Linked DNA regions of Homo sapiens: region 2 is linked to region 1. Evidence: fine-mapped expression QTL. Tissue or cell type: whole blood. Region 1 holds a variant in brackets; the other region holds the start of a gene. All regions are shown on one strand. Distances are between the middles of the regions.

Region 1 (2,758 bases):
AAAAAAACCTAAGCAAAGTGCAGAATATTGCAGAAGAAATACAGCATAAAAAAGCAAAGGTATCAGGACTGAGAGTTTAACTCTTACCACACATTACCCTCTCTGAGCCTCAGCTTTCTCTTGGGGAGCCTCAAAATCCTGTGCTCAAGGGATTCTCCTGCCTCTGCCTCCTGATTAGCTGGGACTACAGGCACATGTGCCACCACACTCAGCTAATTAAAAAAATGTTTTTAGAAATAGGGGTCTTACTATATTGCCCAGCTTTACCAGCTTATTAGAAGCCAGTGGGTTAAGCATTGACCTTTAACTTTGGCTTTTCATCTGCTGTCAAAAAATAGAACTGCCTAACTACTTTTATACTTCCTGTGATACAAGATGATTGAGGAAAGACAGGGAAATGCAAAGAGAGAGGTACCAGGAATAGAACATTGTTAACAGCTGGCATGCCCTGACTCAGGGAATGGAGGGGTATTTAGCCTGTGGATGCTAAGGATGTATAGAATATTTACCAATTCTCAGAGTCTCTAAGGCCTTCTGTGAGTTATCCATGGTTTAGACACATGTCTGGATTAAAGAGTTACTGTTACTTTCCTCTGCTTTCACATAAAACTTCCTTAAAGCTGTGACAACAATTCTGGGGTAGAGGGATGAGGTTTTATCCAGCAGTTGCATTGCTTTCTTTCTAAAAGACTTTCAAATGCAGCTAAAACACGTGGAGGTAGTACTTCCGAATGCATGTGAGTGAATATCACTTTATAGTTTGCAAAACACTTTTTATATAATTGGTTCTTAGAATTACTTGATTCCTGGAATCAACATTTTTTCCTTCTGAGATTGTAAGCAAAGGTCTGGCTCCCACTTCTGAATCCCTCATTCAGCTAGGCAGAATTAACACATCTTTCCCCTTCTTCCACTTGTGCTTTCTTGACCTCAGGATGACGAGGTGCATCACTGAACATCCAGCCCCCGACCAGGGACCTATTCAGAAGCACGAACTGCAGGCTGTGTCCCACCATGGATCACATTCAGCCCAGACTCAGCTCCTTCTGCAACCCTGCCAAAGAGCCTACGAATGACGGCCCCATAGCCCAGGCCACTCTATTAATGAAGAAGAGTGCACTGGGACACTTGAGGAGAACCTGTTTTGTCTCATGTTTTTGAAGCAAGAGTAAAAAATGGAATGCCTCAAAATGCTACAATCCCTCTATATTCAGGTGAGGGAGATTCTTGTAATTCTGTGGGTTATGACATGATATCCATTAAATTATAAGAACTATGGATAAAATTATTAATATTTTCAAAAGACAATGTTTTAGGAAATATCCCATTCAAATCAGTAACAAGGGTAATAAAATGCCAGTAATAAACTTAAGAAATGGGGAAGATGGCTGGGCATGGTGTCTCACGACTGTAATCCCAGCACTTTTGGAGGATCACTAGAGCCCAGGAGTTCAAGACCAGCCTGGGTAACA[T/C]GGCAAAACCTTATCTCTACAAAATAAACAAATAAAATTAGCTGGGCATGAAGGCACACAGCTGTAGTTCCAGCTACTCAGGAGGCTGAGATGGGAGGATTGATTGATCCCAGGAGGTGGAGGTTGCAGTGAGCCCTGATCATGCCACTGCATTCCAGCCTGGGTGACAGAGCGAGACCTTGTCTCCCAAAAAGAAAAAAAAAAAAAAGTGAAAGAATTGTGTAAAGAAAAGCATAAAGATGAATGGAGGCCCCTGAAAGAAGGGCTGATGGGGAAGGACACCATGTCTGTGGGTATAAGGCATCAGTTACAAAGACGTTCACCTTCTCAAAGTGCTCTAGAGCACGGGTTCCCAACCCCGGGGCCATGGACCCGTGCTGGCAGTGGCCTGTCAGGAACCGGGCTGCACAGCAGCAGGTGAGTGGCTGGTGAGCAAGCATTACCGCCTGAGCTCCGCCTCCTGTAAGATCAAAGCAGCACTAGATTCCCATAGAAGCACAAAGCCCATTGTGAACCGAATATACGCAGGATCCAGGCTGCGCGCTTCTAATGAGAATCTAATACCGATTATCTGAGGTGGAACAGTTTTCTCCCAAAACCATCCCCACTCCACACCCCAGGCTGCAGAAAAGCTGTCTTCCACGAAACCGGTCCCTGGTGCCAAAAAGGTTGGGGACTGCTGCTCTAGAGGGTTCATGCTACTCCAACCAAAGTTCCAAAGAGATTTTCTTATGGAACTTTGACACATTGATTCTAAATTTTATCTGGAAGAGTAAATGAGTATAAATTGCCAAGAACTCACTTAAAAAGGAATTTAATTAGTAAAGTCTTGCCAAAAATAAAAATTAAAACATATTCCGAAACTAGAGTAATTATAGAATGTGGTACTAGCAACTGGTTTAGGAATAAAGAAAAGGATCAAGGAAACAGAAGAGGCTAGAAACATATGATAGATATGAATTTAACATAAGATAAAGGTGGCACTTCACAACAGGAGACAAAGAATGCACCAGTGAATAAATTATTTTTAAGACCACTAACCATGCATTTGGAAAAAATTATACCCCTCACACCAGAAAAGTAAATTTCGGGTGACATAAGGAGCTAAAATTTAAAAATACAAAAAAGTTCTAGAGAAAATATGTATGTAATTACATAATTTGGGGTTAAGGAAGACAATCTAGGAAAAGAAAAACACCCTGCTGCTTATGATCCAAGACCCACGTCATTTTCAATTCCACACAGCTGTAAAGCAGCGGCTCTCCTATCAGTTTTTCCACTGGAAT
Region 2 (2,758 bases), 26 kb after region 1:
AAGGTTATACAGGGAGGGAGGGGAGTGTAGCTGGACTGGGGAGTTGGAATAGCAGAAAAGTCACAAGTCAAAGAGGCGGCCCCTTCCACACATTCCCAAAGTGCCAAAGGGAAAACAGCAACAAACTCGAAACTCGCGAGGGCGTCTTCCCGTGCGAAGCGTCCCCTGGATCCCCGAAAAGCCCCGATCCCCTCGCGCTTGGGAAGGGGTGGGGTCCTCTTCAGGAGGTGTTTACTTGGCGTCCGGGGCGCGGAGACCCTCGGGGCCGGCGCCCGGCACAGGTCCGGGGCGGCGTGGTTGCCGCCCGCGCCCGAGTCTCCCTGGCTCTTGACAGCCCGCCGGCCGCCAGGTGCTCGCCCTACCTGGCGCCCCCGCCTGCCTTTGTGCGGCCCGCGCCGCCCCTCGCCAAGGCGGGCCAGGGACCGCCCCCGCCCGCGTGCCGCTGCCAGGCGGGACAGCTGCGGGCGCTGCCGGGCAGCGGAGCGGCGGCGGGGAGGAGAGGGAGTCGGCGCGAGGGTGCCCGGGGCGGGGCGGGCACGGCCGCGGGGAGGGCAGGGGACGCCGCCAGCGGCTGCGGCGCGAGTCTCCGAGCACCTCCCCTGCCGGCTGCGCCCCCCACGTCCCAGCAGGAGGAGGGGACCCCCTCCCGCGCCGTGCCCCTCGCAGCCGATGCGCCCACACCCTGGCTTCCGACAGCTGGCAGCCATAGCAACCCGGCCACAGAAAGTTTCGCGACGCAGAAACCGACTTGGAATAAAGTTTTCCTTGGCCCCTCGCTCGCTCTCCCCCGGCCCGGGTTTACGGAAAGCGGCAGGAAATCAGAGCTCGCGACGTGCCGGCTCCCGCGTCCACCTTCTCCACCCCTGGCCCCGGCAGCGCGCCCAAGGTGGGTGCACCACGCCGGGGTTTCCTGCCCCGTCCCCGGGTCCGGCGTCCTAGGACGCGGCGCGGCCAACTCACCATGGTGACTCGCGCCGCGGTCGCGTCTTCGCCGGGTCCCGCTGCCGGGGAACTGGGGCTGGAACGCAGTCTTCTGGGCGAACTTCAAAAGTTGGTTCCCCTCGCCAAAAACAGGCTCCCGACACCCAAGCACTCACAGGAGCCAATGGGAACCCAGAGGGGACTCCATCCAGGCGGGATTGGCGGTGCTAGGTGAGGGCGAGACGGCGGCGACTTAGCAGGCGGGGCGCATGCTGCGGAGGGCAAGAGTCCACTCGTACTCGCCGGTCGCCGCCGGCCCAGGTGAGTCCGATGCGCTCGGAGCGTCCGCCTCGCTCCCCTGCCTCACTCCTCTTTCTTCGGCCACTTAATCCGTACTCCTCTGGCTGAGTCTCGGCTCGGGCCGGGCAATCTGTCCATAAATGGAGAACTCAGCTCAGGCCTGACCAATCAGGGTTTGTTTTCGTAGCGTCACTCCTCAGGGAAACCGTAGTAGCCAACAAGCTTGGAGCTGCTGGAGTTTCCAAAGATCTCTGGATCCTGTAGTCCTCCTCCCGCGCCAGCCACCGAAGAACGCTGCGGACCCAGCTCGCTCCTGGTAGCAAGACCCGAACTGTAAGGAACAAAACCCTCGTGAAAGAGGAGCAAACCTTTCACTTCGCTGCGTTTTAAGACGAAAGTTAGGGTGGGTTTCGCTTCCAAGTTGAAGGGGCATGATTTTCCCAGAACTTTTTTTTAAGAAGGAAATATTTTATCAGCATAAAACATCAGAGTCGTGGCAGCAGCCCAAAGGAAATCCTTTTTCTTTCCTACGTCTGGATTGTGAGCAAAGTCAAAAATATCATTTCCCCACCCCTCCTTTTACCTGAATTTCCTTGGAAAACAAAGGAAGACTTCCGGCTGCTTTTTCTTTTCTTTTTTCTGTTTTTCTTTTCTTTCTCTTTCCTTTCTTTCTTGTTTCTTTTTTGCACGTTTTGATGGCAGAAAAGTTGTTGCACGTGCAGTGGGCAGAGGGAAGGAGAGAGGAGAGATAGGTGGGAAGAAACCCCATCCAACCTCAGCCAACACATCTGCTGAAAACAATCAGAACTGTAAAAATGCATTATTCCAGACTGTCGAATATCCAAGGAGAAGATTGGGGTGGGGCGGGGTGGGGGGAAGCAGAATCTTAAAATCAAGGTAGGGAGTTTGATTTTATTGTTCTGGAGGCTGAGGAAGTAAATTTGGTGAGTCTTAACAGGCTGCCTTCCTGGAATCTGTAGAAGATAAAATTGGTAAACTTCAGGGCATAGAGAAACTATGAAGCATAATGATATTATGATACTTTCTGAAATTTGGTTGAGGCAGGGCGCTGTGGCTCACGCCTACAATCCCAGCACTTTGGGAGGCTGAGGTTGGTGGATCACGTGAGGTCAGGAGTTTGAGACCAGCCTGGCCACCAACACGGTGAAACCCCTTCTCTACTAAAAATACAAAAATTAGCCCGGCATGGTTATACATGCCTGTAATCTCAGCTACTCGGGAGGCTGAGGCACGAGAATCGTTTAAACAGGGGAGGCGGAGGTCGCAGGGAGCCGGGATCGTTCCACTCTACTCCAGCCTGGGCGACAGAGCAAGATTCTGTCAAAAAAAAAAAGAAGGAAAGAAAGAAAGAGAGAGAGAGAGAAGAAAGGAAGAAAGGAAAAAGAAATTTGGTTGTAGCTCTTCACTTGACTATCTGAGCATAGAGTTAGAAAGGGTATTAAACTTTATCTTGTCTAAAAGGGTAAACAAAATGTTACAACATGGATGAATCTCGAAAATATCGTGTTAAGCCAGG

The links. PIP is the estimated chance that this variant, and not a neighbour inherited with it, causes the effect.
Region 2: it holds the start of MYO1E, and the variant in region 1 is fine-mapped to the expression of MYO1E in whole blood (INTERVAL, PIP above 0.99).

What each region holds. Positions count from the first base shown.
Region 1 is chr15:59,345,259-59,348,016 of GRCh38, forward strand. The region is part of intron 1 of MYO1E (myosin IE); the gene reads right to left. Among named protein-coding and RNA genes, the nearest start is that of MYO1E, 26 kb to the right of the region's middle. The variant T/C (reference allele first, on the strand shown) is at 1,473.
Region 2 is chr15:59,371,538-59,374,295 of GRCh38, forward strand. MYO1E (myosin IE) reads right to left here and starts at 1,334. Exons shown (of 28, transcript NM_004998.4): 1 at 961-1,334. The coding sequence starts at 963. RefSeq lists a silencer at 279-598 and enhancers at 614-1,117, 1,118-1,622.